Homo sapiens: one gene and its partners. The protein of the gene in region 4 interacts with the protein of the main gene of each other region in a biochemical or structural test. Each region holds a gene or a part of one and is shown on either strand. Other genes may lie near its edges. The genes, in order: CSK, GNAQ, GNA13 and RGS16.

The links.
Region 1: of the proteins of RGS16 (region 4) and CSK, one has a biochemical effect on the other in vitro, tested with the Homo sapiens proteins (one study listed by BioGRID).
Region 2: the proteins of RGS16 (region 4) and GNAQ form a complex in vitro, tested with the Homo sapiens proteins (one study listed by BioGRID).
Region 3: the proteins of RGS16 (region 4) and GNA13 form a complex in vitro, tested with the Homo sapiens proteins (one study listed by BioGRID).

What each region holds. Positions count from the first base shown.
Region 1 is NC_000015.10:74,791,440-74,799,209, forward strand, and holds part of CSK (tyrosine-protein kinase CSK), read left to right. Parts: intron 1-1,606; exon of another isoform or gene 1,607-1,809; intron 1,810-6,772; exon of another isoform or gene 6,773-6,793; 5' UTR 6,794-6,858; coding exon 6,859-6,873; intron 6,874-7,175; coding exon 7,176-7,289; intron 7,290-7,386; coding exon 7,387-7,499; intron 7,500-7,770. UniProt on the Homo sapiens protein: Non-receptor tyrosine-protein kinase that plays an important role in the regulation of cell growth, differentiation, migration and immune response.
Region 2 is NC_000009.12:77,720,618-77,728,387, reverse strand, and holds part of GNAQ (guanine nucleotide-binding protein G(q) subunit alpha), read left to right. Parts: intron 1-6,874; coding exon 6,875-7,065; 3' UTR 7,066-7,770.
Region 3 is NC_000017.11:65,052,971-65,060,770, reverse strand, and holds the start of GNA13 (guanine nucleotide-binding protein subunit alpha-13), read left to right. Parts: upstream 1-4,030; 5' UTR 4,031-4,177; coding exon 4,178-4,460; intron 4,461-4,996; exon of another isoform or gene 4,997-5,178; intron 5,179-7,042; coding exon 7,043-7,269; intron 7,270-7,800. UniProt on the Homo sapiens protein: Guanine nucleotide-binding proteins (G proteins) are involved as modulators or transducers in various transmembrane signaling systems.
Region 4 is NC_000001.11:182,601,158-182,608,915, reverse strand, and holds the start of RGS16 (regulator of G-protein signaling 16), read left to right. Parts: upstream 1-4,526; 5' UTR 4,527-4,656; coding exon 4,657-4,700; intron 4,701-5,576; coding exon 5,577-5,687; intron 5,688-6,431; coding exon 6,432-6,496; intron 6,497-6,783; coding exon 6,784-6,950; intron 6,951-7,758. UniProt on the Homo sapiens protein: Regulates G protein-coupled receptor signaling cascades. Inhibits signal transduction by increasing the GTPase activity of G protein alpha subunits, thereby driving them into their inactive GDP-bound form.

The DNA of each region.
Region 1 (7,770 bases), on a different chromosome or scaffold from region 4:
GTTGTAGGCATTGCATCTTTCACCCTAAGAACTTTAGCGTGTATCTCTTATATAATCACAATGTCATGATCACACTTAAGAAAATTGACATTAATTCCATATTATCTACTATGTCCATTTCCCCTCTCCCCAAGTGATTTTTATAGCTGTCCCCCCGACCACCCCTTGATATAGAATTCAATTCAAGATCATTTATTGAATCTTGTCATGTTTCTCTAGTGTCCTGTTCAATCTAGAACATTCTCCAGCCCTTTTTTTGTTTTGCTCTTTTATGACATTGACATGAAGAGTCCGGGCCAGTTGTTCTGGATTTGTCTGATTGCTTCTCCCTGGTTGGAGTCAGGTGGAACAGCTCTGGCAGGAACGCCCCCCCGGGCAATGCAGAGTCCTCCTCCAGGAGGCACTTAGTGTCCATGCGTCACCTTGCTGGTGATGCTTCACTGGATCACTTGGTTCCGGGGTTGTCCGCACGTCTCCCTGTAGTGCAGGTGCTCCTTCCTGTTTCCAATTAGCCTGTGGGATGGGACTTGGAAGCTGTGTCTGTTCTGCTCCCCTGGCAACTTTTTCTTCAATGACTTGAGCTGGTGTTTTGCCATTTTCCATACTCTATCATGGGGAGTGTTCAGTATCGGCATCTAGAGATCTCCCCTGGCCCCATCACAGCTAGAGCTATGCTGTCCCCTTTCAGGGACATCTTGTAATTTATCCACCCAGCCCCCAACTGATGGACATAAAGGCTGTCTCCCCATCATCTCCTGCTACTACAGACAGCACTGCAGGGACTGTCCTGCTGTGTTTTTTTAAGGCATGGGTACTCCAGAAGCAGTTGCTCAGCTGCACCCCCAAGGTTGAGTGGAAGTCCCTCGGTAAAGGAGGAGGAGAGAGTGTGAAGGGAATGGCAAGGCGGGGAGGGAGACAGGGCACAGGTGTCCTGGCAACAGCAGATGGGAAACAGGTCTGGCTAAGGTACCAGAAGCCAACAAGTCCCAGAAAGGTCAAGTGACTTTCCCAAGGTCACACAGCAAGTTGATGGCAGAGCTGGGTACAGGACTCAGAGCATCTGACACCCAGGACGATGTTCCTGCACTGTTCCATAGAGTAGCCCGACTCTTAAGTTTAAATAACCCCAGGAAGGACCCCCTCTCTGTGCCTGACCCCCGCTGGGTTGTAGAGGCCTAAGTTTGCAGTAGCTCCTCCCAGCCACTCTGGCTGTCAGCCTCTGACCTGCAGTGGGAGGGTCTCACCTTCTGGAGATGTTTTAAGGAGGGGACCCCGGCCTAGGCACTAGCTGGGAAGCCACTGAGCCATCTTGTCTGCGGCCACTGACGTCAGTGCTTGGGCACAATGCCAGCCTGTTCCCGGGACCCCAGCACAAGGGCTACTGGGAGCCGGGTTTGGGGCAGGAAGTCAGCGTGAAGCACTGGTCCTGCCACATCCCAAGCCCCTTGTCCCCTAGCTCTGTGGGGGTGGGGTGACAGCTGCTATCGCTTTGGGGTTAACTATAGTCCCTTTGGGGTTAACTATAGTCCCATTGGTTATGGGACCTCAGTGTGATGTAGCCAGGCTGGATTCCCCCTTTTGTTTGTTCATTTATTCATTCATTCAGGGGTCTCATGACCCCACCAGGGAGGAGCCGTCCAAGAGAGTTAGCAGCTCCCACTTGCAAGATGTCTGTGGCAAGGCAGGCACTGTTCTGGTGCTGAGAGCTCAACTCCAGTCCTCACAGCAGCCCCCAGAGCCAAGGAGTATCACCAGTCCATTGCACAGATGGGGAAGCTGGGTTCTAGAGTCACAGCCAGCAGAGTAAAGGTGATGAGTTTAGCCCTCTTCCCTGTTTCCAGACCCTCTGAGGCCTTCAGAGCCCAGCTCCTTGAGGCAGCCCACCCCGACCGCTCCTAGGCTTACCCTTCCCTGAGCACCGCCCCTGTGCCCCTCATAGCTGCTTCTGCCTCCTCCCTCCTCCCTCCTCTCCCTTGCCCCTAGGCTAGTGTGGTCCCCATGGCAACTCCTGGGGCCTGTCCGGCAGGGAGGCACGGGGCTATGGGGAGGGCTGGCTCAGCAGCTCAGGAGTTTGACACCTGAGGGGGACAGAATGCTCACTCAAGGTGTGGCCCTAGGGACCCCCGCCTTGCCCCTGTGGGCCTCACTTGGGGTTCTCATCTGCAAAATGGGGATAATAATAGCTTCTCTGTCTCAGAGTTGTTAGAGGATGTGATGAGCCATAACGTGCCAAGGACAGGGCCTGGCACAGAATAAGTGCTCAGAAAACAGGGCCTGTTATTATTTTTATTATTATAATCAAGGCAGTGGGGAGGCGGCGGTGGCAGTAGCTGTAGGCCAGGAAGGGAGTGTTTGCAAACTGACAGCTGGAAGGGTGACTAACAGCGCAGCAGCCTCCGCGCCCCCCTGTGGTGGCAGGGAGTTTGGGGAGGAAGGGGGAGGCATGGGGATGTGGAATGCTAGCAGGGCCCCTATTCAGAAGGACCTAAAGGTTGGGGGCCCAGCCAGCCCTAGTGGGACCCTAATTCAAGCTCTGTCACCCCTAACTAGCTATGTGACTTCAGGCAAATTGTTCAACCAGTTGAGCCTCAGTTTCCGCTTCTGTGAAATGGGGGTAAGAGGGTTAGAAGAGCTCACAATCCTCCTTCCCTCCCCGCCACCCCCACCCCCACAGCTTACAGTCCACAGGAGGCAGGGGCAAGGGGTCCTCACCACCCCCACCCTCACAGCTTACAGTCCACAGGAGGCAGGGGCAAGGGGTCCCCGCCACCCCCACCCTCACAGCTTACAGTCCACAGGAGGCAGGGGCAAGGGGTCCCCGCCACCCCCACCCCCACAGCTTACAGTCCACAGGAGGCAGGGGTAAGGGGTCCCCGCCACCCCCACCCCCACAGCTTACAGTCCACAGGAGGCAGGGGCAAGGGGTCCCCGCCACCCCCACCCTCACAGCTTACAGTCCACAGGAGGCAGGGGCAAGGGATGGTTCCTGTACTTAGTGGTGACTGAGTCATGTGGATGGAGGCAGGTTTCAGGCTCATCCTCCTTGGGCCTCAGTGTCCCTGCCTAAACAGCAGGATTGATGGCCTGGCCTCTGGGGATAGAAAGGGCCCTGTATTCTGGGAGGAACGGAAGCTCTTTCATCCAGGGGATGGGGCAGGGGCGCACCAGACATTTCCAAGTTCAGGGTTTCATTCCAGCCCCTCCTCAGCCAGCTTGCAGGAGATACCTGTCCTCCCCTTCAGGGTAAGCAAGACTTAGAAGGGTTGAGTCACTCACCCCAAGTCGCACAGTCAACAGAGCCAGGTATTAAGCCCAGGCCTGACTATAGAGCCAGGTGTGCGGCCTGGAAGTGTTGGTTCTCCCTGGCCGTCTCCTCCCCAGCTCCTTCTGCTCTCCATGATCACATGCCCCCCTGCTGAGGCCCCATCGCCCTTGGAGTCAAACCCTGGTTCCTCACATTGGCAGTGGAAGTCCCCCTGCTGCCTGGCAGAGTTTATGCCAGGCCCACTTGAAACCATCCCCTACAGTGTCCCCTGAGCAGCGGTGCTCAAGGTGGACTCTGGAAGTGTGTGGGGTCCTAGAGCCCCAGATGGGCAGGGTCTGCCTTCCCGCTTCCCTCACCATCGGCTTCCACCTGGGCCAGTTTCTCATACTATGCCAGTCCCCTGCCTGACACCTTTGCTCAGACTGCTGCATCAACCTGGGGTGCCTTCCCTGGCCCGCCCTCTGCCTGTGTAAGCCCTGCAATCTTCAGGGCTCAGCCCCAGAGCTCCCTCCTCCAGGGAGCCTGTCTGAGCTCTGCAGTCCGTGCCTACTTCACACCCCCAGCACTTTGCACTAAAATGTCTTCTCCCGCGCCACTGCACTCCAGCCTGGGCAACAGAGCAAGACTCCGTCGCAATAATAACAATAATAATAAAATAAAATGTCTCCTTCCACTGGGGTAGGTAGCAATATTTGTGACTGTCAGCCTAGCCCCCAGACCTCATCCACTGTATCAAAGAGCCCAGCAAAGAGGCTCATGGAGGAGTTTCTCTTCTAACACACTGTGACCACGAAGATGCCACTGGCCCTTTCTCACCCTCAGTTTCCTCACCCGTAGAAAGGAAACAGTAGTTCCAGCCCCTCTGCTTCCTGAGACAGGTCCAAGGGGGCTCTGGGCTGGGATTACAAAGTATGTGTGTGCAGACGGGTGGGTTGCTGCTCTCAGGGAATGGGGTTGGCTAGGGTAGCTTTTTTGGGGAGTCAACTTTATTGAAGTAAATATACGGTTGACCCTTGAACAACACAGGGGTTGAGGGCATCAACCTCCTCCCTGCAGTCAAAAAATCATATATTAACTTTTGACTCCTCAAAAACTTAACTACTAATAGCCTATTGTTGTCAGAAAGCCTTGTAGATAAAGTTGATTGACACTCATTTTGTTTGTTATATATATTATATACTGTATTCTTACAATAAAGTAAGCTAGTGAAAATAAAATAAGAAAATCATATGGCCGGGTGCAGTGGCTCACACCTGTAATCTCAGCACATTGGGAGGCTGGGGCAGGCGGATCACTTGAGGCCAGGAGTTCAAGACCAGCATGGCCAATATGGTGAAACCCTGTATCTACTAAAAATACAAAAATTGGTCTGCTGTGTTGGCGCACGCCTATGATCCCAGCTACTCAGGTGGTCAAGGCATGAGAATCACTTGAACCTGGGAGGCGGAGGTAGTTGCAGTAAGCCGTGAGTCACCCCACCACTGCGTTCCAGCCTGGGCGACAGAGTCTTGCTGTCTCAAAAAAAAAAAGAAAGAAAATCATAAGGAAGAGGAAATATATCTACTATTCTTTAAGTCGAAGGGGATCATTATGAAGGTCTTCATCCTTCACATTGAGTAGGCTGAGGAGGAAGAGGAAGAGTTGGTCTTGCCGTCACAGAGGTGGCAGAGGTGGAGGCGGAGGAGGTGGAAAGGAAGGCAGAAAAGGCAGGCACACTCAGTGTAACTTACTGAAAAACATCCAGCCACGTGTGGTGGCGCATGCCTGTGGTAATCGCTACTTAGGAGGCTGAGGCAGGAGGATTGGCTGAACCCAGGGGTTTGAGGCTGCTGTGAGCTATGATCACGTCACTGCACTCCTGCCTGGGCAACAGAGTGAGACCCTTTCTCAAAAAAAAAAAAAAAAGAAAAGAAAAAGAAAAAATCCATGTGTAACTGGACCTGCGCAGTTCAGACCCGAGTTGTTCAAGTGTGCACTATACACCAAAAAGTGTGCCGATCGCAATGGTACAGCTCAGTGAATTGTCACAGAGTGGACCCACTTCATGATTGGGCTCAGACAGTCTGAAAACCAACCCCAGAGGTCCCCTTGCATTCCTTCCAGTCTCCCTGTCCCAAGAGCAGCTATCCTGACAGCATGGATTAGTTTGGCCAGATTTTGAACTTTATTCAAATGGAATTACATAATATGTACTTTCCTGTGTCTGGCTTCTTGGTTAACATTTTATTTATTTATTTATTTATTCATTCATTTAGAGGCAGGGTCTCACTCTGTCGCCCAGGCTGGAGTGCAGTGGTGTGACCTTGGCTCACTGTAGCCTTGACCTCCCCAGGCTCAAGCGATCCTCCCACCTCAGCCTCCTGAGTAGCTGGGAGTACAAGCACGCAGTACCACCCCCGGCTAATTTTTGTATCTTTAGTAGAGACCGGGTTTCGCCATGTTGCCGAGACTGGTCTTGAACTCCTCCTGGGTTTAAGCCATCTGTCTGCCTCAGCTTCCCAAAGTGCTGAGATTACAGGTGTGAGCCACTGTGCCTAGCCATCATTATGTTTTGAAATTTATCGGGATTGGCCAGGCACGGTGACTGGCACCTGTAATCCCAGCATTTTGGGAGGCCGAGGTGGGTGGATCACCTGAGGTCAGGAGTTCGAGACCAGCCTGGCCAACATGGTGAAACCCCATCTCTACTGAAAATACAAAAATTAGCTGGTTGTGGTGGTGCATGCCTGTAATCCCAGCTACTCAGGAGGTGGAGGTTGCAATGAGCCGAGATTGTGCTACTGCACTCCAGCCTGGGTGACAGAGCCAGACTCCATCTCAAAAAAAGAAAAGAAAAGAAATTCATCAGTGTTATTTAATGGTTGGAGTTTGTGTTGGAGTTTATTTAATGGTTGGTGTTTACTGCTGTACGTAGTCCCTTTTGTGAATATGCCACTGTTTATCCATTTTCCTCTGGATCGGCATCTGGGCAGCTCCCAGTTTGAGGTTTATTACAAAGCATGCCACTTGTAGCCCTCCTGTGCCTGTCTAGGCAGACACATGTCCTGTGTCCTCTCGGTGTGTACCTAGAAGTGGGGTTGGTATATGTTTAGAGATGCTACCTGGGCGGGATTTTGCAGGTGAAGGACCCAAGGACCCACAGAGCATAAGGGACTTTCTCAGATCACATAGCCCCTTCTCAGAGCTGCTCCGGGGCCCCTTTCCCCACAGAACAGTAGCTGGAACCAGGCCTGGGGCTGACGGTCAGGTGTCCATTGTCCCACTAGCCCCCTTTGCTCCTTTCTATCAGTCCTGGAAGGCCCCCTGTGGCCTTAGGGTTGGTGGCTCCCTCTGCCCCTGGGGGTCCTCAGCCCTCATGCTCCTCTACCCAGTACCGTCAGCCTGCCAGGACTGGAGAGAATGGCCCATGTGTCAAATCCCAGCGCAGGACACTCTTGGCACCTGTTCATGCCCAGTGAGGAGCCAGATCTCAGCAGTTGGGGGGCATTTCTTCACACCCCTCCTCAGTCTTCATGCTCTTCCCCACAGCTCTAATGGTACCAAGTGACAGGTTGGCTTTACTGTGACTCGGGGACGCCAGAGCTCCTGAGAAGATGTCAGCAATACAGGTACCACAGGGGTGAGGGTCTGGGACATGCAAGCATTCCCACCAGCCCCAGCGGGGTGCTTAGCAGAGGAGAGAGGATGCAGCTTAGATCAACCCACTCCCCTTTTTCCCAGCACTCAGTCAGGTACAGGCCTGGGGAAGTGGGGGAGTCTCAACAGGAAGGGACCCAGGGCTCGTTCTCCGGGCAGAGCACCTCACCCAGGCTCACAGAGGCCAGCTCAGAGGCTGTGACCACGAGGGTGCGCCAGCAGGTGGCTGGAGGGGGCCCAGGCTGCACCCGCCCACGTGTCACCTGCCTTGCAGGCCGCCTGGCCATCCGGTACAGAATGTATTGCCAAGTACAACTTCCACGGCACTGCCGAGCAGGACCTGCCCTTCTGCAAAGGAGACGTGCTCACCATTGTGGCCGTCACCAAGGTAATCAGGTGACGCCCACCCCACCATCCCACTGCTGGGCCTTCCCTCTGCAGGGGGAGGTGGGCCTGAGAGCATGTCTGGGCTGCCCTCTCCCCAGGACCCCAACTGGTACAAAGCCAAAAACAAGGTGGGCCGTGAGGGCATCATCCCAGCCAACTACGTCCAGAAGCGGGAGGGCGTGAAGGCGGGTACCAAACTCAGCCTCATGCCGTGAGTACCACGAGGAGGGGTTGGGGAGGGAAGGGGCCTTGGTCCTCCTGAAGGAGCATCAGGAGCAAGCAGGGAGGCCAGAGTGAGGGGCTTGGGTGTTGGGGAGGGCCTCAGGAGGAGGTGCAGGGTGCGGGTGCGGGACCTCACAGAGCAGGGCTGGGGGCAGAGGCAGGAGGGTGGCAAAGAAGGGACAGGGAGCAGAAGAAGAGGGCCTCAAATGCCTGACTGAGCGAGTGCGAGCCACGGGTGCCAAGCAGAGGGAACCCCTTCA
Region 2 (7,770 bases), on a different chromosome or scaffold from region 4:
CTGATACAGTAGGAATTCTTGTTTGCCCTGTCTTTTAGTGACACAAAACATTGCATTCCTTAACAATGCTAAAAGTCATAGAAAAAGAAACTCATGGCTGGGCACAGTGGCGAGCGCCTGTAATCCCAGCACTTTGGGAGGCCGAGGCAGGCGGATCACGAGGTCAAGCGATCGAGACCATCCTGGTCAACATGGTGAAACCCCGTTTCTACTAAAAATATAAAAATTAGCTGGGCGTGGTGGCAGGCACCTGTAGTCCCAGCTTCTCGGGAGGCTGAGGCAGGAGAATTGCTTGAACCCGGGAGGCGGAGGTTGCAGTGAGCCAAGATCGCGCCACTGCACTCCAGCCTGGCAACAGAGCAAGACTCTGTCTAAAAAAAAAAGAAAAGAAACTCATCTGCTTTGAAATAGCAGATCAGAAAAAGGAACAATCCAGTAGTTTTGACCAATTGTGTATTAACTCTTATAGTCCCCTCTGTGTCTCCCTTTCATTTGGTTACCGTCCACCTCTGCCTCTCCTCTCTCTGGGGAGGAACACAATTTTGAAGTTAAGAGCCCACCACTGAAATCAGTCTATCAAGGTTGAGATCCCAGTTCTGACACTTCCTATTTGTAGAACTACCATCAAGTCACTTGATTTTTCTGGGCCTTACGACCAAACTCATAGGATTGTTTTGTGCACTGTAGTATATAACATATGTGTACGTTTAGCATGATGCCTGACACGTAGGACACTTATGAATACTCAGGAAATACTTCCTTTTTTGAAACTTCATAGCCCAATGAAGTCCCACCACCATTACTAATAGTAACCCAGTGTTAAGCTCTTTGTGCAGCACTTAGAATCTATAGCATCCACTTCACTACTCCTATGGCTCTGCATTATTTGCTTTGTTCTTAGAAAAGGATCTTACCCTCCCCAACTAGACTGTGAAATCCTGGACAACTAGACACCCAACCCATTCTGAGAAACACTTGAACACTTGGTGATTGGTAACAAAATGCATCCACATGTAGCCACTATGTAAAACAAGTGAGAGTCACGACTGCTGCCCTATAAGAGTCTATGTGGCCAGGTGTGGTGATTCACACCTGTAATCCCAGCACTTTGGGAGACTGAGGTGAGAGGATCACTTGAGCACAGGAGTTCAAGCCCAGCCTGGGCAATGTAACGAGACCTCTATCTATAAAAAATGAGGCAGGAGTTGGCAAGAGGTCAAGACTGCAATGAGCCATGATCCTGCCACTATACTCCTGCCTGGGTGATGGGAGACCCTGTCTCAAAAAAAAAAAAAAAAAAGTTTATTTATTTGGCAAGATAATCACATCTCTCCCTTATGGCCCACCACCTGGTTTTATGAATAAAGTTTTATTGAGACATAGCCACACCCATTCATTATACACTGTCTATGGCTGCTTTCACACCATAACAGCAGAATTGGATAATTGTGACAGAGATAGAATTGTTTGCAAAGCCTCAATTACTCTGTGGCCCTTTACAGAGAAAGTTTGCCAAGCCGTGGTCTAGATAGTTAAGAGCACAAGCTCTGAAAAGTTCCACTTTGCCACTCACTGTCTGTGTTGCCTCAGACAAATTTATTTAGCTACTCAGTTTATCCCTGGGCAAGAAAGAATTGAATGGAATCATACATATATCACATAGCAGAAACCCAAAAGTATCTACCATAGAGGTGATATAACAACAAGAGAAGAGACTATTTTTAAAATTACATTGTCAACATATGATATCCAGGATGGATATCATTCCACAGTGTTTTTGTACTTACTAAAAGCTTCCTCAGAAAAGTAATTACTTTAAAAACCAAGATTAAATTTAGCTTCATAGCTTTCTATGATGATACAAACACATCAGGGATGGAGGTTTAGTCATCTTTTCATCCCACATGGAATGTGGTACAGTCCTGGCTCATGAAAGGGAAATGTTACATGTTAAATGAATTGAAGTTCCCTTCTCAAATACATGTAAGATCCTGAAGGTTGGTGAATTGAAAATATAAACATTTGTGGATGTCACCAGATGTTAGAAATGGTACCTTTTGTTAGCATTGTGTTCATATCCTCTCTTCAAGTACATTTTCCTTTGTGCTTTGCTGTTCTTTGAAAAACACTTTCTCAGTCTAAACAGTGTTTTCTCTTTCACTCCTTTTAATTTGCACTAGCCCGGAAACAAATCATCAATGCCTGAGACTGCACTTCTCAGTGTTGCTCAGAAAACTATGGAAGGAAGTGACTGTGTGGGTAGTTAACTTGCTTTCCCACCTCAAGCTTCAAACACATCTACCTGAATACAGTAGGCATGAAACATCTGGCTTAGATCTAAACACGCTTGCCTGCCACACACACACACACACTCGAGGTTCTTCTTAATTTTTCTTGGAACTTGGTAAGAATCAGCGTGTGAGAAATTGCCACACCATACACAACACCCCATCTTGTGGGCTGGCACGTTTTCATGATGTGCTTGCATAAGGGAGGATGCAGAACAGATAGAGCATGGTGCCCACGGAGGTGAACCCTTCTGAGGGGTTCATTCAAACTTCTCAGATGCAGCATACCTAGCCACACTTCACAGTTGCTGATTTTTCCGCAATAAAAGACTTAGTTTGTGATCAGTGCTTGCAGTGCTGTTTTTTGATCTCTGCACCATCTTCCTAATCTCTTCACGTACCTCCTTTCTCCAATAATTTCCCCAGATTCCCCACCACTACAAGCATTTTCCTTCCAGCATGTGCCCATTGTGAATATTCTGAAATCTGAAGACTTTTTTTTTTTTTTTTTTTTTTTTTTACTGTTACCTTACCCCAGTATACATATAATGCACAGAGGAAACTTGGCCACAGAAAAAGAAAAAAGACATTGATTTTGTTATTACAAAGCCAGCGCAGCAGTCATTACGTGAAACTCCAAGCCCTTGTAAGATGAGCAAACACTGAAAAAATTGAGGCCCACTCTGCAGTGATGTTTTTGTAATAAGCATGTTTATAGTATTATAAATTTCACACTTCCACATTTCTATACTTACAAGGTCTTAATCATAATGAATGCCATTTCTGTATTTCTCTTCAAGAAAGGAAATTACCCTTTCCACATGGACTTGAATTGCAAGATTGTTCATAGAGACTGTGGAATTCTGCTCCTGCTGTGATGGCTGTAATGAGTTCTTTGTAGTGTATGTTTATTCAGATAACAATTTATGCTTAAAAACATAACACTTTTCAAGTACACTTCAGTGAACTTGGATCTAGTTCTTATATTCTGTAGGGTAAATAAAAAAGAAAAAAAAAAGGTATAGTCCCTTCCTTCCCAAATAGAGTAAGTACAAAATCATACAGAAGTTCATTCAGAAGCCAGAAATATAATGTTCTTTTTATGAAATGAGAGACTTCTCCAGCTCTGGTAATCTGTTACTTTCTGGTTTTGAATAGTTTTTATTACTTCTCTGGAGTTAATAGTACATTGAAAAAGATGGAACATTAATTATATATATATTTGCTTGTATATATACTTTACATATTGTTTTTAATTGTACTTTTTATCTATTAAATATGATGCCAGCCCTCTTAGTCATTAAAAAAATTGAATTCTGGGCACCTACATCAAAAATTCAACATTACTTTTTTAAATTGTACAAATGAGGATAGTCTATTTGTTTTTATAATTCTTTCCTCCCATCTTCTGGCATTATCAGATATAAGTTTATTGGAGTAATCTCCAATTTATAAAAAGGTTGGTTTGAGAATAATTCAAGTCAGCTGTCTGAAGCTCAGGGTGCATTTTGTTAGAAATGGTGGTCAAGCCCTCAATAGAGTTCTGCAAGATCTCTTTATCCCTACTAGTAGGTAACAAGAATATTGATGATAGAAAAAAACCTGCTGGGTGTGGTGGCTCACGCCTGTAATCTCAGCACTTTGGGAGGCCAAGGTGGGCGGATCCCTTGAGGCCAGGAGTTGAAGACCAGCCTGGTCAACATGGCAAAACCCTGTCTCTTCTCTTCTAAAAATACAAAAATTAGCTGGGCATGGTGGTGCACGCCTGTAGTCCCAGCTACCCACGAGGCTGAGGCAGGAGATTTCGCTTGAACCCAGGAGGTGGAGGTTGCAGTGAGCCAAGATCATGGCACTGCACTCCAGCCTGGGCAACACAGTGAAACTCTGTCTCAAGGAAAAAAAAAAGTTTCTTATTGCTTGGTATAGAACTAACTTGAAAAAATAGGAGGAAATGCATATATAAAGCAACACAAAGACAGATATATGATACGTATCCAATACTTGAAAGGTGATGGTGTTTTGATGTTATTTACAGTAAGTTTTAAGTTAATATATCTATCGGTACCTATTAAATACACTTTTAAAACAGCTTTATTGAGATTATTTATATACCATGTAATTCACTTATTTAAAGTGTACAATTCAGTGGGTTTTGATATAGTACTTTTTTTAATTATAAAATTTGCCATTTTAACATTTTTAAGTGCACAATTCATAAAAGGCATTAATTACACTCACAATACTGTGCAGCCATCACCAGTATTTTCAAAATATTTTCACCACCCCAATTAAGCAGCAACACCCCATTTCCTTCCTCCCCCTAACCCTTGGAAACCTCTAATCTACTTTCTGTCTTTATGAGTTTACCAATTCTAAGTACGTCATATGTGTGCAAGCATACAATATTTGTTATTTTATGTTGGGTTTATTTATTATAATGTTCTCACAGTTCATGCATATTACAGCATCTGTCAGAGCTTTACTCTTTTTTATGGCTGAATAATATTCTTTTTGTTTCTGATATTCTGATATTCTGTTTGGTTTGGTTTTGTTTCTCCATGTATCTGTTGATGGACACTTGGATTGTTTTCGCCTTTTAGCTGTTGTTAACAATGCTGCTATTAAAATTGATGTACATTGCTTCTTGCCCTTTTGACTAAGATCAAGTGTCTATCAGAGCCCCTGCTCTCAATTCCTTTAGATATATACATTGGAGTAGACTAGCAGGGTCGGTCATATGGTTATTCTATGTTTAGCTTTTTGAGGAACCACCAAACTGTTTTCACAGCAGCTGCACCTTTGTACATTCCCAACAGTGCACAAGAGTACAAATCTCTCCATATTTTCCCAAACCCTTGTTAATTTTATAGCCATGCTAGTAGATGTGGAGAGGTCTGTCACTGTGGTTTTGATATGCATTTTTCTAAATGATTACCATTATTGAGCATCTTTTCCTGTGCTTATTGACCATTTGTATATCTTCTTTAGAAAAATGTCTGTTCAAGTCTTTTGCCTATTTTTTAATTGGGTTTTTTGTTATTGAATTGTAGGAGCTCTTTATATATTCTGGACACTAAACGCCTATCAGATGACATGATTTGTAAATATTTTCTCCCATTCTATAGATTGGCTTTTCACTTTCTTAATAATGGCCTTGGCCAGGTGTGGTAGCTCATGCTTATAATCCCAGCACTTTGGGAGGCTGAAGTGGGAGGACTGCTTGAGGCCAGAAGTTCAAGACAACATAGTGATACCCCCATCTTTACAAAAAGTTTAAAAATTAGCCAGGCTTGGTGGCACCTATAGTTTCAGCTATTCAGGAGGCTGAGGCAAGAGGATCACTTGAACCCAGAAGGTTGAGGCTGCAGTGAGCCATGATCATTCCACTACACTGTAGCCTGGGTAGCAGAGCAAGACCCTGTCTCAAAAAAAAAAAAAAAAAAAAAGTCCTTAGATACATAAAGTTTTTAATTTTGATGAAGTCCAATTTATTTTTTCTTTTGTGAAAAATATGACCTGTGCTGTGGTGTCATATCTAAGAATCCATTGCAAAATTACATTTTTAGTTTATCTTGCTAGATATGTCACAATCCTTTTTCAAAGCATCTAGGAGAATTCTTGGTACATAAGAGACTCCTTCTTAAATCAATGTAAGAAAATATAGGTTGGGCACAGTGGCTCACACCTGTAATCCCAGCACTTTGGGAGGCCAAGGCGGGTGGATCACCTGAGATTAGGAGTTTGAGAACAGCCTGGCCAACATGGCAAAACCTTGTCTCTACTAAAAATATAAAAATTAGCCAAGCATGATGGCAGGCACCAGTAATCCCAGCTGCTCAGGAGGCTGAGGCAAGAGAATCGCTTGAACCTGGGAGGCAGAGGTTGCAGTGAGCTGAGATCTTATCACTGCACTCTTACCTGGGCAACAGAATGAGACTCCATCTCAAAAAAAAAAAAAGAAAAGAAAATATAAACCAATTGTTTTATCATCACACATGAACTGAATGCTACACAAATGTAGTGTGCTCAGAAATACCAGAAATCTATGGAAGTGAGACTGTTACAGAGGCCCATTGTAGATAGACCTGACCTTACAAACAGGTGTTCTAAGAGAGATGTCAGTCTGGAAGATGTAAAATGATCCATAATATTGGGTCGTTTGGAGGACAGATTGACAGGAGAGCCCGAGGCAGCTGTATCTTTGTGCACACTTATTATATAGCTGAAACAAGCATACTTAACTCAGTTGAACAGAAGTAAGCTATCACTCCCCTGATGAAGAGCCTACAGTGGCTCCCAATCACTCAGGGAATCAGAGTGAAGGCCAAGCTAAGAAATAAACTTAGCCTTGGCTTTCAAGTCATCTGTCTGCTTTCACCTATCCACATTTTGTGAATGGGTGGGTGCCTGGGTGGGTGGATGGATGGTCAGACATAGCAGTGTTAGGGAAAATGATTATAACAGATCAAATCTGCAGTGCAGATGTAGGCTTCATGAGCAATGACACAGTATTTATTGAACCAATGATGATTGAATACATTAGCAGATTAGGTAACAAAGTGTCCCTCTTGTCTCTTGGCCGAAAGGACCCCAGAGAGATGCCCAGGCAGCCCGAGAATTCATTCTGAAGATGTTCGTGGACCTGAACCCAGACAGTGACAAAATTATCTACTCCCACTTCACGTGCGCCACAGACACCGAGAATATCCGCTTTGTCTTTGCTGCCGTCAAGGACACCATCCTCCAGTTGAACCTGAAGGAGTACAATCTGGTCTAATTGTGCCTCCTAGACACCCGCCCTGCCCTTCCCTGGTGGGCTATTGAAGATACACAAGAGGGACTGTATTTCTGTGGAAAACAATTTGCATAATACTAATTTATTGCCGTCCTGGACTCTGTGTGAGCGTGTCCACAGAGTTTGTAGTAAATATTATGATTTTATTTAAACTATTCAGAGGAAAAACAGAGGATGCTGAAGTACAGTCCCAGCACATTTCCTCTCTATCTTTTTTTTAGGCAAAACCTTGTGACTCAGTGTATTTTAAATTCTCAGTCATGCACTCACAAAGATAAGACTTGTTTCTTTCTGTCTCTCTCTCTTTTTCTTTTCTATGGAGCAAAACAAAGCTGATTTCCCTTTTTTCTTCCCCCGCTAATTCATACCTCCCTCCTGATGTTTTTCCCAGGTTACAATGGCCTTTATCCTAGTTCCATTCTTGGTCAAGTTTTTCTCTCAAATGATACAGTCAGGACACATCGTTCGATTTAAGCCATCATCAGCTTAATTTAAGTTTGTAGTTTTTGCTGAAGGATTATATGTATTAATACTTACGGTTTTAAATGTGTTGCTTTGGATACACACATAGTTTCTTTTTTAATAGAATATACTGTCTTGTCTCACTTTGGACTGGGACAGTGGATGCCCATCTAAAAGTTAAGTGTCATTTCTTTTAGATGTTTACCTTCAGCCATAGCTTGATTG
Region 3 (7,800 bases), on a different chromosome or scaffold from region 4:
ATTTCACATAAGTGGAACCTTATAATATGGGGCCTTTTGTTTCACTTTGCCTAGTATTTTCAAAGTTCATTCATGTTGCAGCATGTGTCAGCACCTCATTCCTTTTTATGGCTGAATAATTGCAATGTATAGATATGCGACATTTGGTTTATCCATTCGTTCATCGATGGACATTTGGACACCTTTTGGCTATTCCTTTTTTGTTGTTGTGGGTTTTTTTAACTTTTATTTTAGGTTTAGGAGTACATATGCAGGTTTGTTATACAGGTAAACTGCTCATCTCGAGTTTGGTGTACAGATTATTTAGTCACTCAGGTAATAAGTATAGTATGCGATATGTTTTTTGTTTTGTTTCGTTTTGTTTTGGTTTTTGAGACGGAGTTTCGCTCTTGCTGCCCAGGCTAGAGTGCAATGGCGTGATCTCGGCTCACTGCAACCTCCGCCTCCCAGGTTCAAACAATTCTCCTGTCTCAGCCTCCTGAGGAGCTGGGATTACAGGCGCGTGCCACCATGCCCGCCTAATTTTTGGTATTTTTAGTAGAGATGGGGTTTCATCATATTGGCCAGGCTGGTCTCAAACTCCTGACCTCAGGTGATCCGCCCGCCTCGGCCTCCGAAAAGTGCTGGGATTACAGGTGTGAACCACTGCACCCGACCAGGTATTTTTTTTTTAATCCTCTCCCTCCTCCTGCCTTCCACCCTCAAGTAGGTCCCAGTGTCTGTTGTTCCCCTCTTTGTGTCTTGTTTTTTAGAGATAGGGTCTCACTCTGTCACACAGACTTAGAGTTCAGTGGCATGATCATAGCTCACTGTAGCCTTGAGCTCCTGCATTTAAGCAATCTTCCTGCCTCAGCCTCCTGAGTAGCTAGAACTACAGCTATGTGCCACCACATCTGGCTATTTTTTTTTTTTTTTTTTTGAGACAGGGTCTGGCTCTGTTCCCCAGGCTGAAGTGCAGTGGTGCAATTTTGGCTCACTGCAGCCTCCGCTTCCTGGACTCAAGCGATTTTCCCACCTCAGCCTTCTGAGTAGCTAGGACCACAGGTGCACACCGCCTTCCCCTACTTTTTATATATTTTTTTGTAGACAGGGTTTCACCATGTTGCCCAGGCTGCTCTTAAACTCCTGGCTTAAGTGTTTGGATTACAGGCGTGAACCACTGCAGCCGGCTAATCTCTTGGCTACCATAAATGGTGCTGCCATGAACGTGGGTATACAAGTTTTTGTTTGAACACTGTTTTCAATTCTTTTTAGTATTTTGGGGGGTATACCCAGGATAAAATTACTGGGTCATATGGCAATTCTATGTTCACCTCTTTGAGAAACCACCAAGTCTCTAACTCATTTTTATGTTTACAATTTACAAGGTGTCTTGATCACCAGTTAGAAGAAGCTGGACAGCTGCAGCCAAACCCCTAGGTTGGACCCAAAGAGGTCTCTTTTTCTTTCTTTCATTCATTCATTCTTTTTCTTTTTTTTTTTTTTTGAGACAGAGAGTCTCACTCTGTCACCCATGCTGGAGTGCAGTGGCCTGATCTCGGCTCACTGCAACCTCCGCCTCCCACGTTCAAGCAATTCTCCTGCCTCAGCCTCCCGAGTAGCTGGGACTACAAGCGCCCACCACCACTCCCCACTAATTTTTGTATTTTTAGTAGAGATGAAGTTTCGCCATGTTGGCCAGGCTGGTCTCGAACTCCTGGGCTCAAGTCATCTGCCTGCATCAGCCTCCCAAAGTGCTGGGATTACAGGCATGAGCTACTGTGCCCGGCCTTCTTTTTCTTTCTTTCTTCCTTCCTCCTTCCTCCTTCTTCTTCTTCTTCCTTCATTTGACTTTCAGGTCAAAGAGGTCTCTTTTTAAAAACTACACTGACTAGAACAGCCAGACTTGATGTGAGCCAAGTTTGTTCCAAGGCAAGCTTACACGCAGGGCTTTAAACAGCTTTCTCTGCTGCTCTGCATGTCACGACATGAACTGGCTGGGCAGGAATACCTTCCTGCCTCCTAGGCATTCTTGGTTTTCCATTATATTACACACACTTCTGAAAAAAGATGTTAACTACCTAACTTACAAGTTTCTCTCCTCTTTGTTGGAGTTCAGATTAGCACCTGGGGTCAATGCAGAAACAGTGCTCGGGGACAGGTTCTATGCCCCAATCCTGGGAGAGGCGAGTCCTTGCATGGTTAGAGAACAGGGCCTCCCAAACACTAGATGAGATGATGGAAAAATTCTCCATCCAGGGCAGGCTTTTACCATATATTTTGCCTGACAGCACTGCTCAGTGATTCTGACTCTTATCAATCCACAGATATTGGAGGTGAGCCTACTCTACTTGTATATTGTAGGTTGTCCACCCTCTGGGCTTGCCAGAGCCACAGGAGATAATCCTACTACAGGCATTGTTTACTGCAGCCAATCTACTGAGTCGAGGCTTCTCGGTCATTAACCCAACCCCAGGGAGTAACTGATTAGTACCGATTTTAAAATTTAAACCTGTTCGGGAGTTTCTTGGAATGCTGACCTCTTACCTCCGCTCCCTTATACATACGAAGTTTCTGAGCCACAGGAGCCCAAAGCTACGTTGCATTGCCCAAAACAGGGACAGACCAAAGTGGCTTTTTCCACTTGAAACTAAATACTAAGAATGAAGAGGTCGGCTCTCGGGGGTCCCGGTTAAGCAGTTTCTCTGCCAACCCACAGCTGTCACTTGTGGCTTGTCTCCTGGCCTCCTTTCAGGTGTCCTGGCCTGAATCTGCTGTTAGGACAGAAAAAAAGTCCCTGGACGGGTCATATCCTCTGTAATCTGGCAGGAAAGCTAAAATTTGCGTGCTCCCATTCCTCGTTGTGTTTGTGTATCTGCTTCCTTGTTGGGAAGAGCCTACATCACAGTGTCCGGTGTAGGGGATTTTCACCATGACCTCACCCTCCTGCTGCCACTCGCTAATTCCGGCGCGGCCAAGCGTCCCTGAAGTCACATCACAGCCCAGGTGGAATGCACGAGTGAGCCATTAAATGCCCCTGGTAGCACGTCTCAAGTGAACATCAACTCCAGTTCTTTCCCCTCACAGAGAGCCCTGGTAGGGGTCTGAAAATGCCAGAAAGAGCTGGAAGTGGGGGTGGACGACGTCTGGTTACCGTTCTGGGATTCGGAGACTAGAAGGTCAAGGGAGTCACTTTAAGAAAACACACCAGGCCTGGGCCTGGTGGCTCTGTCTGGAATCCCCGCACTGTGGGAGGCCGAGGCTAGAGGATCGCTTGAGCTCAGGAGTTCGAGACCAGCCTGGGCAACATAGGGGGGAGCCCCTGTATCTAAAAATAAATACAAAAAATTTAGCCGGGTATGATGGCACACGCCTGTACTCCCAGCTACTCGGGAGGCTGAGGCGGAAGGATGGCTTGAACCTGGGAGGCGGAGGTTGCAGTGAGTCGAGATCGAGCCAATGCACTCCAGCCTGGGCGACAGGGTGAGACTCCGTCTCAAAAGAGAAAAAATAAAATGAAATAAAGAAAATGCACCAAAGGCCTGCCAGGCTCACGCCGGCTGTTCTGTTCGAATAACTTTCGAGTCCGTGGCCTCGAAATGGGTCGGGTGGGCGGTGACAGCGGGCAGCGGGCGCGCAACGCGGGAGAAAGGGAGGCTAAGTGGGAGCCCAAAGAACCGCGTCCGGGACCTGGTCTCCGGCCTCCCGGCCTTGGGGAAGGAGCCCTTCTGCCCACAAGTGGGCTCAGGCCATGAAAGGGAAACAGAAAGTCGGGCTCCCCAGCCTGGCCCACGTGACCGCGGTTCCTCAGCCCTCCCCGCGCGCCCGGCCGCGGCTGCGGGCGCGGGCACCCGAGCGACACATCGAGCTCGTGACTCGCCGCCCAGGGCGGGAGGCGGAGAAGCGGCCGCGGCGTGCGAGCGCGCCTCCGGGAGGCAGCGGGAGCGCGCACGCTCCGGGGCCACCGCCCCTCCGGGGCCGGGCCCGCCCTCCTTCCCTCCCTCCCTCCCCCGCTGTCCTGGCCCGCCCTGCCCGGCCCGCCCTGCGAGTCAGTTCGCTGGTTCCCTCCCTCCCTGGGCGCGCTCGGGCCGCCGCCGCGCTCCCCGCCCTCGAGCCTCGGTGCCGGAGCCGCCCGCCGCCGGAGGAGGAGGTGGAGGGAGCCGGAGGGGCCCGCCGAGGCGGCGGCGGCGGCGGCAAGATGGCGGACTTCCTGCCGTCGCGGTCCGTGCTGTCCGTGTGCTTCCCCGGCTGCCTGCTGACGAGTGGCGAGGCCGAGCAGCAACGCAAGTCCAAGGAGATCGACAAATGCCTGTCTCGGGAAAAGACCTATGTGAAGCGGCTGGTGAAGATCCTGCTGCTGGGCGCGGGCGAGAGCGGCAAGTCCACCTTCCTGAAGCAGATGCGGATCATCCACGGGCAGGACTTCGACCAGCGCGCGCGCGAGGAGTTCCGCCCCACCATCTACAGCAACGTGATCAAAGGTGCCGGGCCGGGAATGGGGGCCGGGGGTTAAGGGCAGGGGGGCTGGGGCGGCGGCGGGTGCGGGGCGGGGCACCGCCCTGGTCCGCTGTGTCGCTGGCGAAGGAACGGGCCCGGCGGGCGGGCTGGCGGGAAGGGGGCGCGCCCCGGCAACTGGCCCTGCCCGCCCGGGGTGCCCTCGCGCCCCAGGGCGAGAGGATGCTCGGGGTCGCCCTGCTCTCCCGCTTGTCTCCCCGGTGGGCGTCACGGCCATTCCCCCACCCCCCACCGCGTCCTGGTCTCTCCCCCTGCGAGAGGGAAGTGGGGCGAGCTGGGTGCTGCCTCGGGGTGTGGGCAGACCTCTCCTGTCCTCCCCGCTGCGGATGAGGCAGGAACACCAATAGCAGCCCTAGCCGCTTCACCCCCATCCCCTGCTCGGGCGATGTGGGCCGAACCTCGCTACCCTGGCTGGGTGACCCGAGTCACATGGGGTCGCATGCGCTCCCAACTCCCTGCTTCCTTGGCCGTCTCCTAAGCAAGCGAGTTCTGGAACCGTCGCAATAAGGGAACTTTTTGCCCGAGACTTCTTGTCAAGGGCGTAGGGTGACAGCCTCCTTTTGGGCGAGAATATGAAACTTGAGGAGTGTCAGGTTGACTGTACTGGAATCAGGAGAGAGTGGACCCATACAGTTAGCATGAAAATGTAGCATCTGTGCTTTTTCGCCCCAGTGTCACGGTCAGGTAGGATGTTTGCGTGTGATTTCTGTGCAACACGTTCCACTCTCCTTTTCGCTAAGTAACTGGGGGCTGGCAGGAAGGGAGTACCACTGCTTCTATTTAGATGAAATGTAGTAGTAAGAAGACTGGCCTAAAAGTCATGTGGATCCTGTACAGATGGAGACAATGAATGAGTGTTGAGTTAGATAATTGGCTCGGCTCTTTATTGACAGTAGTTTTAAAATTAAACTTTGTTCTTAAGTGAAAAATAAACAAGTTGTTTATTTCTGGGCATTCAAAGAAATCGAAAAGATGGTTTTTATTTTGTCATTTGAAAGATAATTAACACTCGTTTCTGCGTGTCAAGTATGTTCTATAGAAAAGGCATTTTGGCAAAATTTAGGTGCAGCGCCTGGTAACTCAGGTGCATCTGGATTTTATTTTATCTGGGGAGCAGTTTAGGAGTTTGCTACAGATTGCAGGTCTTTTTAAGTGGGATTTTTGTTCAGGAAGTACATAAGGGACTTCTGCATGTCACCCCCCCGCCCCCTCCCCGCCAACCGCCTCCCGAGCTTCCAGCGTTTGGGTAAAGGAAAACTGCCTGAAGAGCCAGGCATTATGGAGTAATGAATTAGAGAGAATCACTAGACCACAGCCAGCTCTAGCCCTAGTACCTCTGCAGTTAAACTATAAAGAACAGTTGTATTTATCCTGCTGTAATGTTTAGCTCAAAACTAATTAAGGTCTCTTTCAAGGCTGCAGACTCTGCCTTGACAGTCCTTAATTGAAGGTACCTTTGTAACCTGATGCAGCTGAACTTAAGGAATTATGTTAATGAATAGCATCAACATGTTAACTGACTGTGAGCCTGGTAAACACCTCGTTCTTAATGTACACTGAGTTGTAAGTGTGATCTACGTTGAGCATTGATTATGAGATGATGTAAGTCATCAGGAATCTAGTTTTTTCAAGTTGACATGAAATTTGACAGTAGAACAGTTTCTCAGGCTGGGCGTGGTGGCTCACTCCTGCAATCCCAGCACTTTGGGAGGCCAAAGTGGGAGGATGGCTTGAGCCCAGGAGTTCCAGACCAGCTGGGCTACATAGCCAGACCTCGTCTCTATTAAAAAACAAAAACAAAAAAACCCCACCCGTTTTTCAGTTATTCAGATGACTTCCTAATAGCCAAGTGACTGTTCAGATTGATCAAACTTAATAAAAGTAATAGATCAGTGATAGGAAAAATGAGTTTCAACTAACCTCTGTGAGTTGGAGTCCGACTTTGTATTATTTTGCAGTTGATCTTCCTCCCTTTTAGGGAAATTGAAGGCCATCCTGTAACTTAAACTGGATTGAAACTTGGGCTGGAAGAAGTTTTTAAATTTTGAATGTGTTGCTAGAAGACTCAATGTTGGGTTAGGGTGCCGAAGCAACAAACAGAACATGGAGCTATAGTAGTTGGTTCTTAGTGTTTCATAAATGAACATCTTTTAGGCTCATAAAACCTTGGTTGTGTCTGTTTTCTTCTGAGCTTGGACATTGTTGGTCTGTGCAGCATAACTTCTTTTTCTTTCTTGAGTTAGATTGTTTTTTGACTACCTTCTATCCTAGAAGTTATTTTATAAATTGGAACATGTTAAAAATCCTTCAGAGAGAGGAATTGTGCTAATAGTATTTGCTTTTCAAGGCTCTAATTTTAAGACAGTGAGCAACTGTTATTTTTTTTAACCTCTGAGAAGTTACATTTGTTTTCGATGTTGGTCTTCATTTTTGAAGAAGGTTTGTCTAGGTTAATTCAGAAGTATAAGGAAATAATACTGGAATAAAAACTTATGATAATATGTAATGACTCCTCTCCATACATTTTTTTTCTTCTTTTTAAACAAAGGTATGAGGGTGCTGGTTGATGCTCGAGAGAAGCTTCATATTCCCTGGGGAGACAACTCAAACCAACAACATGGAGATAAGATGATGTCGTTTGATACCCGGGCCCCCATGGCAGCCCAAGGAATGGTGGAAACAAGGGTTTTCTTACAATATCTTCCTGCTATAAGAGCATTATGGGCAGACAGCGGCATACAGAATGCCTATGACCGGCGTCGAGAATTTCAACTGGTAAGAGATTTGCTCTTTTAAAACGTGTGGTTTTATTTTAATGATGTTTAGTAATACAGGTTGCACATCCCTAATGCGAAAATTCGAAATGTTCCCAAATCTAAAAGTATTTGAGATGGAGGAACAGACTGAAAGGCTAAGGCACAGACCTAATGTGTCCTAGTCTCTAATGACTACGTGTAAAAATAGTGTATAAAATTACCTTTAGGCTACATATCTTAAGGTATATATGAAACATAAATGAATTTCTAGTTTAGACTTGAGTCCCATTCCCAGCATATCTCATATGTATGCAGATATTTCAAAAATCTGAAAAAATTCAAAATCCAAAACACTTCTGGTCCCAGGCATTCGGATAAGGGACACTCAACCTGTATCTGATTTTAGCACACTTTTTTCACTGACTTCCATAATTTAATGTATCTATCCAAAATTATAGCCTCAGAAATTTGTTTTTTTGTTTTTGGGGGGTTTGTTTTGAGACGGAGTCTCTGTTGCCCAGGCTGGAGTGCAGTGGTGTGATCTTGGCCC
Region 4 (7,758 bases):
CCCAAGGATGTGCTTCATTCTTCTCATAGCAAGCCAATTCTGAGTTCTAGAAAATACCACATGGCAAGCCGACGTAGTGTTTGCTTAGGAACCCAGGTCCTGGAGTTGGACTATCTGAAATCAAAACCCAACTCGACCACCTAATAGCTTTGTGGCCATAGGCAAGTTACTTAACCAATCTCTGTTTACTCAACGTAAACAGAGTTTACTCAAATGTAAAATGGGGAAAATATATTACTGATCTTATGAGTGTAATTGTGAGCATTGAAAGAGATACTTCAAGTCAAAGCACACAGAACAGAGCCTGGCACATAGTAAGTGTTCGATAAATGTTAGCTTTTATTATTTGTGTTGAAACAGAAGCCATCTACCCAGCCAACATTTATGGAACATATGCAGAACTGAGCATGGTGATAGGGGCTGAAGATAAAAAAAGATGACCAAGGCAATAGTCCCTGCCCTCCAGGAGTGCACAGAGGAAACAGACTGTACATTGATTCTATCAGTACAGGGCAACAGGGATGGCTCAAAGGAGGCCTGGCCAACTCTGCTTGCAGATGCGGGGAGGGAGGAGGAATTAGGGATGGTATGATAGAATAGAAGGCAGTTGAGCTAGGTCTCAAAAATAGGTAGAAAAGTCAAGAAAAGTCAATACCAATGTATGGTTCTAGGACTTAGGCTAGTGGTCACCTCTGTTTAGGGGAGAAATTTGCTGGAGCAGGCATGAGGAGTGATGGAAGCCATAGCTTGATTACATATTGGTTACATGGGTGTATACATTTGTCAAAACTCATTGAATTGTACTCTTAAGATTTGTGCATTTTATTATATGTAATTGTATCTCAATATATAAGTAAAATCAGTTTATTGAAAAATATTTTTTTAACTGAGTAGTACAGGAAGGGGAAGGACCTTCAGGCCAAGAGAATTTTATGCTCAAGGGTTTGTGGGTATAAGGCAGCATGATGCCCAGGATAATGTGCCAATTGCTGAGTTTGGCTGGAATTTAGGGTGTATAAAGGATATGAGACCAAGTGGTTAGAGCCTTAGATGCCTTACAGAGGAGTCTAGACGTCATCCTCCAAGTCTAGGTTTGGGAGAAGTGGGGAGGGAGGGAAAAGAAGAAACCAGAGAGGACTAATATAGCAGCAAAGCAAGCTGCATGCAATACCCTAAACAGTAATCATTAATCATAGTAAAAGTCATTTCCTACAACCAGGCTGAATTTGGTCAACTTCTCCTACCCAGGAGGAGAGGGTGCCCAAAGTTTTTGTCATGAACCAGTGGGGAAATGTCCCCAGTGATTGCCTATTTCACTTCTGCTGGAGATGATCACTGCCTCCTCATTCAGCTGCTTCAGGATACGCTCTTAAATCTAAAAGTGGCATCCAATTGTGTCCCACAACCCTAAGTGCTTCTGCAGCATTTAATAAATTCCTTAGTCTTTCTGCACCTTTGCTGTACCTGCAAATGATAAGAGCTTTTCCTGTTTCTTTCACTTTCATGCCTCCTCCTACTTCTTCTGCTTTTCACTGGCTACCATGGCTCCATCACTTCTTTTTCAATACTGTCAACCGTCTCTAATCAGCCTCTTCCCTTGACATCTGTTTCTGTGACAAACAATAGTTTCCTTTCACTTTCCCTGCTCCCCACCATGCAGTTCTATTTCCTTAGCTAGATTATAAGGTCCTTGAATTCAGGGAAGAGCCTTAAAAGCTATTGTTTTCCCACCAACTTGGGAATATAGTAAATTCATAAGAAATATGTATTTGTAGATTGATGATTGAATTTGGAGGACCTAAACCACTGTGAGGATCATCTGAGCTAAATCAGAAAAATGGAGGAAGAGTTCTCATTTCTGCTTACCATTATCAGTAGACAAAGATCCCCATCTAGACTTCTGCCTCCATGGAAAGGGTAGTGCTGGGGGCTGGGAGCTGAAGGAGATGAAAGGCAATATGGCTGGGATGCTGTGGGACATTTAATCTTGACTACGGCTTTGCCCAGACTGCTGACCCCAGATGACCCAGGGTGCAGAGCCGTGCCCCCATGCTGCCATCCATTAAAGAGATCACATCTGCTCTGGGAGTGCTGGGCAAAAATGAGGTCAGGTTTTGTCCAAGCCAGTGCAATTCATAAGTGAGCTCAACTTGCTGGATTTACAGCAACTGTCGAGTCATCCTGCATTACCGAAACTGCAGATATGAACCGACCTGCTGGGAAGATAATTTGGGATAAATTGTGAACTTCAAAAAGTTTCTGCCTGGAAACTGAAGAGGTAACCATGGCAACAAAGAGGCAGGTTGAACTTGGAGAGGGCCGTTCATCTAGAGTAGGGAGCTTTGTGCTCTCAGATTTGCTGGTCTGTGCACTGTGCATCAATGCCTTTGTTTTTTTTGCAATGGCGCGATCTCGGCTTACTGCAACCTCTACCTCCTGGGTTCAAGAGATTCTCCTGCCTCAGCCTCCCAAGTAGCTGGGATTACAGGCACCCACCACCATGCCTGGGTATGTTTTTGTATTTTTAGTAGCGACTGGGTTTCGCCATGTTGGCCAGGCTGGTCTCGAACTCCTGACCTCAGGTGATCTGCCCGCCTCAGCCTCCCAAAGTTCTGGGATTACAGGCGTGAGCCACTGCTCCTGGCACCGTTTATTTTGCTTTCTTTATCAGAGCAGGAGAAAGTACTAGCTCAGGAATTGGGAGATAGGATCCAATTTCCAGCTATTTCCTGTTCCAGTACACTTAACTAAGAGTGCCTCAGGTGTACTTAACTAAGAGTGCCTCAGTATACACTGCCTATACTGTATTCCAAGAGGCACAAAAGACTCACTAATTTTCCTTATTGCTAGCAATCCCAGTATCCCTATTAAGTAAAACTGAAAGCTATTATAACATTTATTGACTGCTGACTACATGTTGAGCACTGTCATATAAGCACCTTATATGTTGTCACGGATGCTGTGCGGTGCCACCCAGATCCCGTCTTGGGGACTGTGATCATCATTTCCCAGGGTGTTAGTCTCTCTCCAGGAATTGCTCTTGACAAAGGGCACTGCCTTAAGATTAGGCTGTCTTCTTGGGCAGCTGTATGCAATGAATGGTCTTTATGGGGTTACCAGGGCCTTGTCCTCTTGCTTCAGTGGACAGTTCCAAAGGGCCAGCTGAGCTTCCGGGCATTCCTTGGAACCAGCTGGGGTCTCTGTTGAAATGGCATGGCCTTCAACTCCTCCCTCTGCCCAGACCTGCTTTCTTTACTCCCTCTTAATTCTGATAACTCTCCCCAGTAAACCTCCTGCATGCAAGTGTCTACCCGAGTCTAGTTCCTAGGAACTCAAACTAAGAATTAATTTATTTAGTTCTCACAACCACCTTATGAAATAAGTTGTTCTCTTCGTAGAGACAAGGAAATGGAGGCATAGAAAGGTTAAGCAGTTTGCCTCGTCTCCCATCAGTAGCCAGTTAACAGTGAACGTGGCCTTCCTGCAGCTGGGTCTTCAGCAGGTCACCTGGCAGAGCCATGACTTGAAACCTGAAAATCTAACTCTAGACCCTGTACTTTTAACCTCACATACAGCCTCTTAATAGCAATCCCAATGCCTTTATGGGAAGATGAGGTGAGAGGAAGGGCATTTATTACCTTTATGTCAGAGATGGAGACAATAAGGTATTAACTGCTTAAACCCAGGATCGTCCACAGGTATAGCCGTGACCGGGTACTAACCTTTGTGTGTGTGTGTGGTGTGTGTGTGTGTGTGTGTGTGTGTGTGTGCAATGGAAAAAGAATGGCAAATTCACATTTGAATTTTGGAGCCAACACTTACTAGCTGCACATCTTTGAGCAAGTTATTTAATAACTAAGACTTTGAGCAAGTCTTACTTATGTGCCTAGCACATAGTAGGTGTTCAATAAACTACTCATCCCTATTCCACTTTTCTGTCATCTCCAACTGTGATCTTGGACAAGTTTATTTAGCTTTCTGATTCTCGATTTCTTCATCTATAAAATGGAGATGATGATGAAGAGCTTACTTAGCCCCGTGTCCATCATGGTAAGAGCCTCGTAAAGGGTACTTATCAGTATAATCAGATGCTGTTTTGCCCAGGTTTGCACCCTGTGCGCCTGTCCTCAGGACCCAGCAGGCTCAGACTTGCCTGCGATCAAAGAAAGCCCTGTGTGCCTCCCAGACCCACCACCCCCGTGCAAACTCTCTCAACACGACACCGCTGCGTGACTTTCCTGCTGTTACTAGAGGTCGGCAGGTACTTTTCCCTAGGAAACTGGGTGTGCACGTCTCATCCCCGTGCCAATTCTCTTGCCGCTTTTCCTTCCACACGCGGCGTCCTCTGGGCGGAGGGTGCAGCTCCGCGTGCTCCAGCTGCCGCGAAAGTTGCACCCGGCCCAGTCTGGCTGCGGGCCCCGCCTCCGCCTTCTCAGCGCCCAGCCCCACCCTCCGATTGGTCAGCAGTGCCCAGCCCCGCCCCGCTCCTCCGAGGGGATTTAAAGCAGCGGCCGCTCAGTCTGGGCGCTTGCAGGCTGCTAAACCCAACCGCAGTTGACTAGCACCTGCTACCGCGCCTTTGCTTCCTGGCGCACGCGGAGCCTCCTGGAGCCTGCCACCATCCTGCCTACTACGTGCTGCCCTGCGCCCGCAGCCATGTGCCGCACCCTGGCCGCCTTCCCCACCACCTGCCTGGAGAGGTAAGGGGAGGTTGTCCAACTGCTTGGGGGAAGTCCCACCAACTCTTAGGGAGTGGAGCGGCAGGCCTGGGGACCTGGGTGGGCGCGGGGATGGGGCGCTAGAGGCTTGAGTAGAGAGGTAGAAGCGCACTTGATGCCACGTGCTCAGATTCCAGGAGCAGGGAGAAAGCAAGGGGAAGGGAAGCAAGGGCCCGCGGCTTGCTGCCATCCCCATCCTCTGACAAACTGCAGTCGTGCTCAGGTGACCTGCTGAAGACCCGGCTGCGGGAAGGCCACGTTGACATTTCCAGGCAGCACTGAGCCTGCCCATTTCTTAAGCATTTGTTTTTCATTCCTCAGACCAGAGCTAGGGGCATTGCCTCCTCTGCCCCTGGAAGACAGGGAGATTTTTTTTTTTTTGGTGGGGTGTGTGGGGGTGGGGGCTCCCACTGTTGAGGGTGTGTCCATATTCCAGAGAGCTACTCAACAGCTTCCAATCCTTACTGGCTGGGAAGGAAAAAGTAAAGATGAAGGCAGGAATCAGTTTCCCACACAGTTCAGAAATACTTCTGAAAAGAATGCTGAGTTCTTTTCTGAATCAACAGGCACGAAGAGAGATCAGTGTGACTTTAGGGAAAAGCCCATATATGCAGCGTGTGTATTACCCAGAAAGTGTAAGACCTACCACAGCATAGCTCAAACATTGCTTTTGTTGCTTTGGGGTTGATGATGCTGATAAGAGAAGCACTCTTGGCCTGGGGACAGCCAAGAGTTTCCAGGAACTCTTGAGGCTAAAGTTTGGGTGGCACCACCCAGAGCTCTTCTGGGACCCATAAACCTCTCCACACTGGCTGAGCAAATGAGAGAATGCTTTCATGTTCCTGATTTGTTTTTCAGAGCCAAAGAGTTCAAGACACGTCTGGGGATCTTTCTTCACAAATCAGAGCTGGGCTGCGATACTGGGAGTACTGGCAAGTTCGAGTGGGGCAGTAAACACAGCAAAGAGAAGTAAGTGTTGCTGACCAGCTCAGGGCTCCGAGAGGGAAGGGAGTGGGAAGGGAGTCATGAGGAGGGAAATACAGGGAGAAGCCAGGACACGCTAAGTGGACCTTGGCAACACCTCCCTAGAGATTTTAGTGGGACTTGTTGCTGGTCTGTTATGACTACTTGGCTCATGGGTGAGTGGGTAGGTGGCTCCAGGGCTCCAAGTCCATCCACGGATGAGGGCACACAGGGCATGAATGCCTAGTTCCCAGACTCTCCCACCTCGGGATTCATTGCACGTGCATCCAGGGCTAGGACAGAATCCAAGACCACTTGAAGTTTTCTAGTATGCACCTTGCCTAGAAACTCTTTCATATTGGCTATCAACTGTACCAAACTCTGGAGTTATGTGTAGATGTAATCTCTATTTATGAGGACCTTATTTCCTTGGGAAGGTGTACAAAACAAATCTTTGAGAGTCAGGGGAATTGAAATAATTTTTGGACAGAGACGAGACAGGCTTAGAGATATTGACTGAGGACTAAAGAGTCCCTGGCTTTGATTTCTGGTTGCTGAATTGTGCTCTAGAAAGCACTACTGCTTACCCTAAGTCCAACTAAGAGTTTGAGGTGTCAGCTTCAGCAATCACCAAGCAAGCCTTTCTGTGAATTTTATGCAGTTTTCCATCAGAGTTCTGGCTAGAATTTGTACTATGCTTTGGTTTGTTGATTTTTTTTCTTACTCTTTTTTTTTCTTTTTGTCTTTTAGTAGAAACTTCTCAGAAGATGTGCTGGGGTGGAGAGAGTCGTTCGACCTGCTGCTGAGCAGTAAAAGTGAGTAGGAGCCTTTTGTGTCTGTCTCTGGGTGGCACATGTGTACTCATGTGCTTTGGAGCCAGCCCCAGGACTGCTGAGAGCCTGGGCAGAATAATAGTAGTAGTAATAATAATAATAATGATCCCCTAGTGTGCCAGCCTCTATTCAACATATAAAGGCAGGTCATTGTTCAAGAAAATTATGTTCTAAAAATAGAGCCATTAATTGCAATTGCTTTCCTTTCTTCTTGTATTCCCTGCTGTCCCTCCAGCTGACCTATTTCCTCTTCTTTCCCGCAACCCCAGATGGAGTGGCTGCCTTCCACGCTTTCCTGAAGACAGAGTTCAGTGAGGAGAACCTGGAGTTCTGGCTGGCCTGTGAGGAGTTCAAGAAGATCCGATCAGCTACCAAGCTGGCCTCCAGGGCACACCAGATCTTTGAGGAGTTCATTTGCAGTGAGGCCCCTAAAGAGGTTAGAGCCCCCATATGCCCAGTGAATCCTCACGACCCTGCCTGCTCCTTCCCCTCTGAGAATCAGGGCTAGAGGGGAGGAAGGGCTAGGTGTAGAGGTAGAAGGGCCTTACTTGGCACAGGGGTGACTGGGCTTCTGTGACCAGAGACTAGGAAAGCCAGGCCCAGTGCCACTCCTGGGTGCTTAACCCTAAGACTCATGATGGGGCAGGATGTGTTGGCAGGTTTTTCGGCTTCTGTCCATACCCACCTTTATAAACCCATCCGTTTTTAGAGGCTCAAAACACTTAGCAACTGGGGAGACAAGGTCAGCACAGGGACCTTATGTAACCTGGCTCAGTCCCCAGGCTGACCTGCCTGAGGCCTGCTGGTCTGTGGTCTGTGATTTTTTTGTCTACCTTCTCTCCTGGCCGCTAAACGCATGGCAGCTGCATTTGCTAAAGAACACAGCGCCACCTGGTGGAAAGATAAGAGTAATGCCTTACTTTTGTACCTTATTTTTGTTTTCTGACCGCTGATTGATTCCACATAATTCTGTAAAGGTGTATTGAGCCCCAATTATATTCAAGACACTGTTACAGTCACTGTGTATGTCACAGTGAGCCACACAAAGTCCCTTACCTAATGAAACTTATAATTTGAATGGGGGAAGATGCCAATAACCAACTAGACAAATATATGCCAGGTGATGAGCTATGCACTCATAAAAATACAGCAGGAAATGAGAGACAGGGAGTACCAGAGGTAGGGCCTGGGAAGACGTAAGGTTTTCCATTCTGTAAAGGGAAGTGAGGACATATGAACAGAGA